3 linked regions of the Homo sapiens genome follow. The protein of the gene in region 3 purifies or fractionates together with the protein of the main gene of each other region. This does not show direct contact. Each region holds a gene or a part of one and is shown on either strand. Other genes may lie near its edges.

Region 1 (2,487 bases), on a different chromosome or scaffold from region 3:
GTGGCTCACGCCTGTAACCCCAGCACTTTGGGAGGCCAAAGCAGGCGGATCCCTTGAGTCCATAAGTTCGACACCAGCCTGCGCAACGTGGCGAAACCCCATCTATACAAAAAGCACAAAAAATTATTTGGGTGTGTTGGTGAGCACCTGTTGTCCCAAGTACTTGGGAGGCTGAGGTGGGAGGATTGCCTGAGCCCAACAACTTGCTGCAGTGTGCTTATGCCACTGCACCCCAGCCTGGGCAACAAAGAGGCCCTAAAAACCACCAGGGGTTTCCCTTCCAGCAGCTAAAACCTGAGAATCATGGATGCAGTGGAGAGCATGAGCGCTTTCCCAGCCCTGTGGGATCCCTTTGCTTAGCCATACACGGGCCGATCTGACACCCAAAACCAAAGGCATTGAGCGAGTGGGAGTGCCACCCGCTGCCGTCCCAGCCCTTTCCCAGGGAAAGGCCACCCCCTTCCAGCTGCTGCTTGTGATCTGGGGCTGAGTTCTGGCTGCTGCAAAAACAACATCCCAACGCGAGGGCTGGGGCCGCCAGGTCCATCACAAGGTGGGAAACATGCCCATAAGAGGAAAACAGCCCTGACTTTAAATATATATTCTCCAATTTAAAACTTTTAACTAAAAAGTAAACTTTAATGTCGAAAGTGCAAACTTGGGGAAGGCAGAAAACATCACACACAAGGCTGTCACTTCACACTTGGAAGGTTGCACAGCGGCCGGGCAGAGGCGCTCCTCACTTGCCAGACGGGGTGGCGGCCAGGCAGAGGTGCTCCTCACTTTCCACACGGTGTGGGGGCCGGGCAGAGGTGCTTCTCAGTTCCCAGATGGTGCTGGGCTGTCGGACTCCATTGCTGGATGTGTGACTTGGGTTTAAGCTTCTCCCTTCTGCTCTCATCTGGAAATGCTGACAGCCTGGGCATTTCCTCCTTTGGCACTGGAGACTGAAGCCTGGCAAGGCCCTGCCCTCAGCAGGAACTCCCCCTGGGCCCCACTCTGTGACCTTGAGCCCAAGACAGGATTTTTCCTTTACCTTCTTCCAGCCACTTTGGGCCTCCCGGCTCTCTCAGAGCCCTGTTAGGTAGGTGACAACTCTGTTCCCACTGTTTTTTTTTTCTTCGTGTATTTTTAGTAGAGATGCAGTTTCACCATGTTGGCCAGGCTGGTTCGAACTCCTGACCTCAGGTGATCCACTCGCCTCAGCTGCCCAAAGTGCTGGCATTACAGGTGTGAGCCACCGCGCCCGGCCCCCGGTTCCCACCTTCTTAAGTGTATGTGTTGTCATCATGTTTCACCCCAACCAAACCTTGGGTGGGCAGCCTCTGTAGGGGACCACTCACAGCTGGCCTGTAGTCACGGTCCCCTGCAGAGCCCTGTCCCGATGCGTCGTCCCTGCCCGTGGCCTGCTCTGCCTGATGTGCACTGTACGCTCGGCTCTGCTGACTCCCGGGGGCCTCCGTCACACACTGAGCCAGCCTCATCAGCTGTCTCGGTATTTGGTGTTCAGGGACAGGGATCCAGCCCTTCCTAAGGTCCACCTGGGCTGAGACTCAGAATGGACGTTCAAAACAAAGAGATGGAGCTGTGAGTGACACCGGGCCCCACGGGCCGTCTGTCAACCAGGCCTTGGCCCTAGTCCATCGGGCACTCACCCCCTGCAAGATGTGGACCCACTAGTGCCCAACGTGTGAACAAGTAGCTGGAGGCCTCACCCCACACTGCTGGCATGGCCTGCCTCTCTCCTACCCAGGTGTAGCAGCTCCTGGTGCCAGTTGCCCCAGAGCGTGGCCAGGCCCCGGGTGTCTCTCCATCACAGCTGCGGCTCTGGCTTCTTCCGGGAAGTGAGGTGGGGTCGCTCCCCGTGCAGCTGCTGCTGCCGCTGCTTCAACGCTCTGTAGGCCTGCACGGCCCGCTCTCTCTCCTCCTCCACAATCCGCTGGCGGGCCAGGGAGGCGGTCAGAGGCTGGGACACACCACCGGGGCTCAGAAGCATCCGCAGCATCTGCGATCTCCTGCCAGGCTGAGGGAGAGAGGGGAGGGTGAGGCACAGGCTGGGAAAGGAGGGGATGCAACAGAAAGCCTCACAGCTTCAACAGCTCTCCCGCCAGCGAGAACACTGCACTCTCAGGCCACACACCAGACAGCGCACACGTTGGCTGAGGGTTTTTTTTTTTCTTGACACAGGATCTCGCTATGTTGTCCAGGCTGGTATCAACTCCTGGGCTCAAGCAATCCGCCTGCCTTGGCCTCCCAATGTGCTGGGATTACAGGTGTGACCCACCGTGTCCAGCCTGTCCAAGGCTTCTGTTCCCTGGCAGCACTGGGGGACAAACTCAAGTTGTCCCCGTGCCCCACTTACCTGGTCCTTGCTTACGCTCCTCTGGGGCCTGGCAGTCAGCTCTGGGGGCTGCAGGACAACCTCACCAAACTTCACCGTGTCTGGAGGAGCAGAATACAACTGAGGACTGCTGCCCACAGCCACTG
Region 2 (3,655 bases), on a different chromosome or scaffold from region 3:
TTGTCAGAAATCACTTCAGGGCAGAAACTGAGATGTGTTTACTCTTGAACTACTTTCATTTCCCTCATCAACTTGGTTAGTAAAAACAATAACCACAAAAAAAACAAAACAAACAAACAAAAAAAGAACCAAAAAAAACTAATGAAATTACGAGAAGACAAATCTTCCATTGAGAGACACTCAGATTTAAACATTAATGAAAGTAGTACCTTTTAAAATTTGTGGAATATACCAAAAGTGGTAGTCTGAAAGAGTTTTATGGCTATACCTGCTCATATTAGAAAAAATATATATTGAGCAAATCAATAAATACAGAATAAACTCAAAGGAAGCAGAAGAAAATAATAAAGATAAAAGGAGATATAAATGAATTAGAAAACAAAGATTCAACAGGATCAAAGAAGAAAGTACTCAGAAAAGACTAAGAGAATAGATATCTTGGTAAAAACTGATTTAAAAAAGAGAAAAAGCCAAAATAAAATAATATTAGGAACGAAAAGTGGACATTACTGTAGTCTCACTCATGAACACAGATATAATTAATTCTAAGCAAAGAATTAATAAATCCAATTTGGTTATGATGTTTAATGCAGTAAGAGAAAAGCCACATAATCACCTCAATATTTGCAAAGAAAACATCTAATAACATTCTACATTCATTCATGACAAACAAAACAAAACAAAATCATAAGAATAAGTAAAATTTACTTAACCCTTAACTCATAATAATCTATCTCTAGTGACACAAATATTAATGTTGACTCATTGGAAGTATTCTTTTGAAAATCAGGAACGTGGCAAAGATGGCACTGTTGATTTTTCTATTTATTTGACATTAGGCTAGAAGTTCTAGAAGGCACAAAAATGGGAGAAAAATGGGTCAAAATAAGAAAACTGTCATTTGCAGAAATGGTTATCTAAACAGAAAAATGAAAACGATATCCCAACAAATTAGAAATGAATTTAGGTAGGCTACTGGTTAGAACATCACTATTCAAAAATCCATTGCATTTTTATAAATTGGCTAACAAAACAATTTTCAAAGACATGCAGTTTACACCAACAAAAACTGTAAGATATCCAGGAATAGCTCTAGCAAGATTTATGTGTCAACTTCCATGAAGAGAATTACGAAATACATGAAATACATTTCACTATTTAAAGGAGACCTAAGTAAATATATATTATATACATACATACGTATCCCCAAATTGATCTGATTTAGTGCCATTTATAATTTATATGGAGGAGCAAAGGCCTAGGAAAAGCCAAAACACATCTGAAGAGAGGGGATTTAGGGGCAGGAGTGAAAGAAGCATTTTGCCCTTATAGATATGAAGCCTTATTATGAAGCTAAATAATTAACTAATGATGCAGTGACAAACTGACGAAGCAAATAGCCCAGAAAAAGACCAAGCATATATAGATATTTGATATATATCATGGCATTACAATTCATTGTGGGGAAAGGCTGCACTACTCCAAAAATATAACTACTGGTTATATATAACCAGTACTGGATAAACTGGTTATATATAAATGAACTGTTAAGAAGTAGAACACAGAATTGTAAGAGTACATTAAAACTAATTCAAAATATATATATGCAAAAGGACAGGTTGGGGAGACAGGAAGGAAAGTAACTGGTTTCCATTCTCACACCAAACAGAAAACAATTCCTGACAATCAAGCAAATAAATACGAGAGGCAACTCTTTAATTATTTTAGAAGGAAAGAAGAACTTATGATCACAGGAAAGAGAAAAGTTTCTTAAATATTACATAAAAAGCTTTAAGTGCTAATTTTTCAAAAACTCAACTACATCAAGAACTTCTGGTCCTGGTCCTCAAAAGACACCATAGAAAATAAAAAGAGAATTCATGAATTGGAAGATTTCTTTAATATGTATGAAGAATTGGTATCCAAATTATATAGAGAAGTTCCACAAATGCGTAAAATATACTACATGATAGAAAACTGGGCAAAAGACATGAACTGGCTTATCTCTAAAGAAAACAACTTATATTAAATGATGCTCAACATTAGAAAACAAGGAAATACAAATTCAAACCACAATGAGACAGCCTTTTATCATTAGTCTGAACATACCATGAGTTGGTTAGAATGTGGATGAGCAGGAACACTACTCTTGTACCACAAAAGTATAAAATGATACAACCACTACTTTGAAAAATATTTTGGTACAATTATGTAAAGTTAAACATTTACACATTCCATGACTCAAAATTATCCTACTGTAGGTAAACATTCTAGGGAAACCTTTATGTACACACACCCTTGATATGCCTGTTACCCCCAAATTTATCTCAAGACCTCTTTCCTGAATTCCAAGCTCACATCCCAACTACCTGCTTGACATCTCTTCTAAAAACTCTTGAGTCATCTCAAACATAATATATGCAAAACTGAACTCTTGATTTCCCCTTAAATCTCCTTCACTCAGTCTTCCACATCTAGTCAATGACCATTTCATCCTTCTAATTTGCTCAGTCTAAAACCTTAATACCATCTCTGAATCCTCTATTTATCTCATATTCTGCATCCAATTTGTCAGGAAATTGAAGCAGCTCTGATTTCAAAATATACCCAGGGGAAAAAATATTTAGAATCAGATCAATTCTCACCACTTTCATTGTAACTACCCTGGCCCAGGTCATGATGAAAGCCCATCATTTCTTTCCTGGATTTGTTTAGTAGCTTCCTTTCTCTACTTACCTCTCCAGCTACATTCTCAGTAAAGCAGCCAACTACTTCTAAAAATTAAGTCTGATCACATCATTTTCCTATTCTTTTTTTTTTTTTTTTTTTTTTGAGACGGAGTCTCGCTCTGTCGCCCATGCTGGAGTGCAGTGGCGCGATCTCGGCTCACTGCAAGCTCCGCCTCCCGGGTTCACGCCATTCTCCTGCTTCAGCCTCCCGAGTAGCTGGGACTACAGGTGCCCGCCACCACACCTGGCTAATTTTTTTGTATTTTTAGTAGAGATGGGGTTTCACCACGTTAGCCAGGATGGTCTCAATCTCCTAACTTCGTGATCCACCCGTCTCGGCCTCCCAAAGTGCTGGGATTACAGGCGTGAGCTACTGTGCCCGGCCACGTCATTCTTCTATTCTAACCCACCCAGTGGCTCTTCATTTCACTAAGTATAAAACCAAAGTCCTCATACCGGCCAACAAAGTCACTGATCTGGTCTTTCTTCTTCATCATACTTTCCTAGGACCTCTTCTACAATTCTCTCCCTTGCTTGATTTCAGTCACAATGGCCTCCTTGTTATTCTTAAAAAGCATATTCGATACACTCCTGCCTTGGAGCTTGTGCACTGGGTGTTCTCTCATTCTGGGGCTCTTTTTGCCCAAAGATGGCTAATTTCCTCACATCCTTCAAGTCTTTGCTAAAAGGTCAATTTCTCAATAAAGCCTACCCTGACTTTCCTATATAAAATCACTACCCAGTAGACAAATGGGCAAGAGACACAATCAATCAATCAAGGGGAAAAAAATATGAAAAGATGTTCAACCTCATTCAAAATGAGAACTGCAAATTAAAACTACAGTGATATACAATTTCTCACTTATCAAACTGGAAAAAATGATTTACAATGAGTGTTAAGTTGAGGAGTAACATTCAAGTTATCT
Region 3 (3,655 bases):
GACCATGGGCAAGTCACTTAACTCTTGGAACCTCGATTTATTCCTCTGTAAAGTAGGGACAAGAATCCCTATCTCAGAAAGGTATAAGACATTAAATTAAATAAACCAGCACACCCAGCAATGTGTCTGGCTCTAAGAAGACGCTTTGATAATTGAGGACAGTAATTATTTTTGACTCATTCATTCCTCACCCAACTCTGTCAGGTAAGTACTGTCATTATCTCCATTTTTCAGATTAGAAAACTGAGGTTCTAAGACATGCAGTACATTACACACGGTCACATCAGCTGGGAAGTGATGGAGGCAAAATCTGAAGCCAGACAGTTTGGCTTCAGGGACTGGGCACTTAACAAAATACTGAACCATTTCTCTGGACCTTGGTTCCCTTATCTGTGAAAATGGAATAATAGAACTTTCCTCATGGGGTTGCCATGAAGGGTAACTGAGCTAATACACATAAGGAGTTTAGGATACTGCCTGGTATTTGGCGAGTGCTCAGTAAATGTGAACTATCTTTTTTATCATTTATTTATTTATTTATTTTTGAGATGGGGTCTCACTCTGTTGCCAGGCTGGAGTGCAGTGGCACCATCTTGGCTTACTGCAACCTCAGTCTCCTTAGGCTCAAGCATTTCTCCTACCTCAGCCTTCTGGAGTAGCTGGGAGTACAGGCATGCTCCACCATGCCTGGCTAATTTTTGTATTTTTTGTAGAAATGGGATTTTGCTATATCGCCCAGGCTGGTCTTGAACTCCTGGGCTCAAGGGATCCACCCGCCTTGTCTTGAACTCCTGGGCTCAAGCGATCCACCCGCCTTGGTCTCCCAAAGTGCTAGTGTGAGCCACTGAACCTGGCCCAAGCTATCATTTTTATTAAGGAGGAACATTATCAGGCAGACTCTCCAGAAACCGTCTGGAAGAGGTAGTGAGTACCTCATCCAGAAATAGGGAGGGATCCCTTGGAAACTGTAGGAAGAATTCAAGTCATCAGAAAGGTTAGAATTCAGTCCCTTTAACTTATCTTCAAGCCCCAGGATTGATTATTGATTGATTGATTGATTGAGACAGTGTCTTGCCCTGTCTCCCAGGCTGGAGTGCAGTGGTACAGCCTTGAACTCCTGGGCTCAAGCAGTCCTCCCACCCCAGCCTCTCAAGTAGGCAGTACTACAGGCACATGCCACCACATCTGCTAATTTTTATTTTTAGTAGAGATGGGGTCTCACCAGGTTGCCCAGGCTGGAGCGCAGTGGTACGATCATAGTTCCCTGCAGCCTCGAACCCCTGGGTTCACAGGATCCTCCCGCCTCAGCCTCCCACGTAGCTGGGACTTAAGGCGCATGCCACCACACCTGGCTAAGCCCTAGGATTTAGTGGGAAAAGTGAAATAACCAAGTGAGAATAAGATGGAGTTTTGTGGGATTGGGGCCAAACCCAAAGGGGAGATGCTTGAGGATCCTCCTGGTGGAAGTGGGGCTCCAGTGAAGGACTTGTCAGATTTGGAACAAGCAGGAAGGACCTGGGGATTTGCATGGTGTGGTGGAAGCCATGGAAAGTTCTTGAGCAGGGAACAGGAAACATCATTCATTACTTTTGGGAGAAGACCGGCTGCATGGGGTTGGGGAGGGAGGGCAGCGTGCAGGCCTGAGGCCGGGATTTCAGGCAGAAGGGTGCTGACTTTAAGGATGTGGCCCTTGCCACGCGTCAGGGGCTCCTGTGTCCTCCCTGGGTCAACCAGGTAAGCTGCTTCTCCCGCCCTTTCCTGGCATAAGGGGCCCTGAGTCTCTGTATTTCCCCTAGCACCCTCGTGGCTCAGCTCAGTTTCCTCCTCCTGAACCCCAGTGTCATAACTTAGAAGCCACCAACCCCTAACGTGTCCAGATGAGGAAATAGTCTTTTTATTTTTTTTTTTTTGAGACGGAGTCTTGCTCTGTCGCCCAGGCTGGAGTGCGGTGGCACGATCTTGGCTCACTGCAAGCTCCGCCTCCCAGGTTCACACCATTCTCCTGCCTCAGCCTCCCGAGTAGCTGGGACTACAGGCGCCCGCCACCACGCCCGGCTAATTTTTTTGTATTTTCAGTAGAGACGGGGTTTCACTGTGTTAGCCAGGATGGTCTCGGTCTCCTGACCTCGTGATCCGCCCCCCTCGGCCTCCCAAAGTGCTGGGATTACAGGCGTGAGCCACCACGCCCAGCCGGGCGGAAATAGTCTTATAAACAACACTCATTTCACTGAGGTCTCATAGTAATCCACAGGGCTGCAAGTAGAACGTAGGCCCCCTAGCCTCTGGGCACACCTGGCTCCCTGCAGCCCCCACTCCTCAGACCCCTTCCCCCAGCAGCAGCTGCTGAGCACTCCTTAAGTGGATCTGCCATAATCCTCTTCCCTTCATCCCCCAGGGAGGATGAGCTGGTGTTAAGACTAATACAGCCATTAATCCTGTTTCCTCCCAACCATGATCCCCAGGAGCAGCTGGGTGGAGGGCGTCTGGGTTCTGGACCAGAAAGTAGGGATCTCAGCTAGAGCTGGTATCCCAGGAGGCCATGTTAGATCAGATACATCAGTTATGACTCAGAAAGAGGCTTCCAGCTGCTAGCAATGGCTCAGGCTGCCTTGAGTGATTCTCCATTACCAGAGTTGTGGGAACAGGCCAACAAGATTCCAGAGCAGAGAGTGGACAGATTCCAGTCTGGGGCGGAGGCCCGTACAGCTGTGCAAGGCCAGAATTCTGTGTGAACAGTTGCTGTCTCTGAGGACTAACCATCCAGAGGAGGAAAGAAAACACAAATGCTGGGGACCTGTCACTTCCAGACAGTGCCAGCTACCAGATTTAGCCCATTGGCTCAGCCCTTTTCTGGTCCCAGGTCTGTCTTTTCTGGGCGCTTGGAGACCTTCAGGCCAGGCCCACGTCTGGGTACACTCTTTATCCTGGCATAGTTCTTGGACACTGAGCTGAAGAAGGAAGATGGTGAGACAGATGGAACCTGGGCCTCTGGGAATGCCACAGTGTTTGGAAAAGCCCGTTGGGGGCGGGGGGGGACGTGTAGGTGAATCTTTTGTGACCCTCAGCCTCCTTTCTTAGTGGCTCTGCGGACACTTGGTCCAACTCCTTTCTTCAATGAGCAGATCAGGGAGGAAACGAACGCAGGATGTCAGAGCCAGGAATGCTGGGCAGGAAGGATGTGTGGGTTCCGAGGTGAGAAATGCAGATGAGATAGGGTTCTCTCTGAGGCTTTCAGGAGTGGCGAAGGTATGTGGCTTTGGTCTAACTTTGCTTCTCTTGCAGAGAAACCCCGTTCACCAAGGCCATGGAAGTGGAGGCTGCAGAGGCCCGGTCCCCAGCCCCCGGCTACAAGCGCTCGGGCCGCCGCTACAAGTGCCTGTCCTGTACCAAGACATTTCCAAACGCGCCCAGGGCAGCGCGCCACGCTGCCACACATGGGCCGGCAGACTGCTCTGAAGAGGTGGCCGAGGTGAAGCCAAAGCCAGAGACAGAAGCTAAGGCAGAGGAAGCCAGTGGGGAGAAGGTGTCAGGCTCCGCGGCCAAGCCTAGGCCCTATGCGTGTCCGCTATGCCCCAAGGCCTACAAGACGGCACCCGAGCTGCGCAGCCACGGGCGCAGCCACACGGGGGAGAAGCCCTTTCCGTGCCCCGAGTGC

The links.
Region 1: the proteins of ZNF668 (region 3) and CCDC137 purify together in Homo sapiens (affinity purification with mass spectrometry; one large-scale study listed by BioGRID and IntAct). This does not show direct contact.
Region 2: the proteins of ZNF668 (region 3) and RPF1 purify together in Homo sapiens (affinity purification with mass spectrometry; one large-scale study listed by BioGRID and IntAct). This does not show direct contact.

The regions. Positions count from the first base shown.
Region 1 is NC_000017.11:81,672,031-81,674,517, reverse strand, and holds the end of CCDC137 (coiled-coil domain-containing protein 137), read right to left. Parts: intron 2,443-2,487; coding exon 2,363-2,442; intron 2,024-2,362; coding exon 1,814-2,023; 3' UTR 619-1,813; downstream 1-618.
Region 2 is NC_000001.11:84,485,765-84,489,419, reverse strand, and holds part of RPF1 (ribosome production factor 1), read right to left. Parts: intron 1-3,655.
Region 3 is NC_000016.10:31,064,109-31,067,763, reverse strand, and holds part of ZNF668 (zinc finger protein 668), read left to right. Parts: intron 1-2,734; exon of another isoform or gene 2,735-2,964; intron 2,965-3,078; exon of another isoform or gene 3,079-3,145; coding exon of another isoform or gene 3,146-3,192; intron 3,193-3,282; coding exon of another isoform or gene 3,283-3,304; coding exon 3,305-3,655. UniProt on the Homo sapiens protein: May be involved in transcriptional regulation. May play a role in DNA repair process.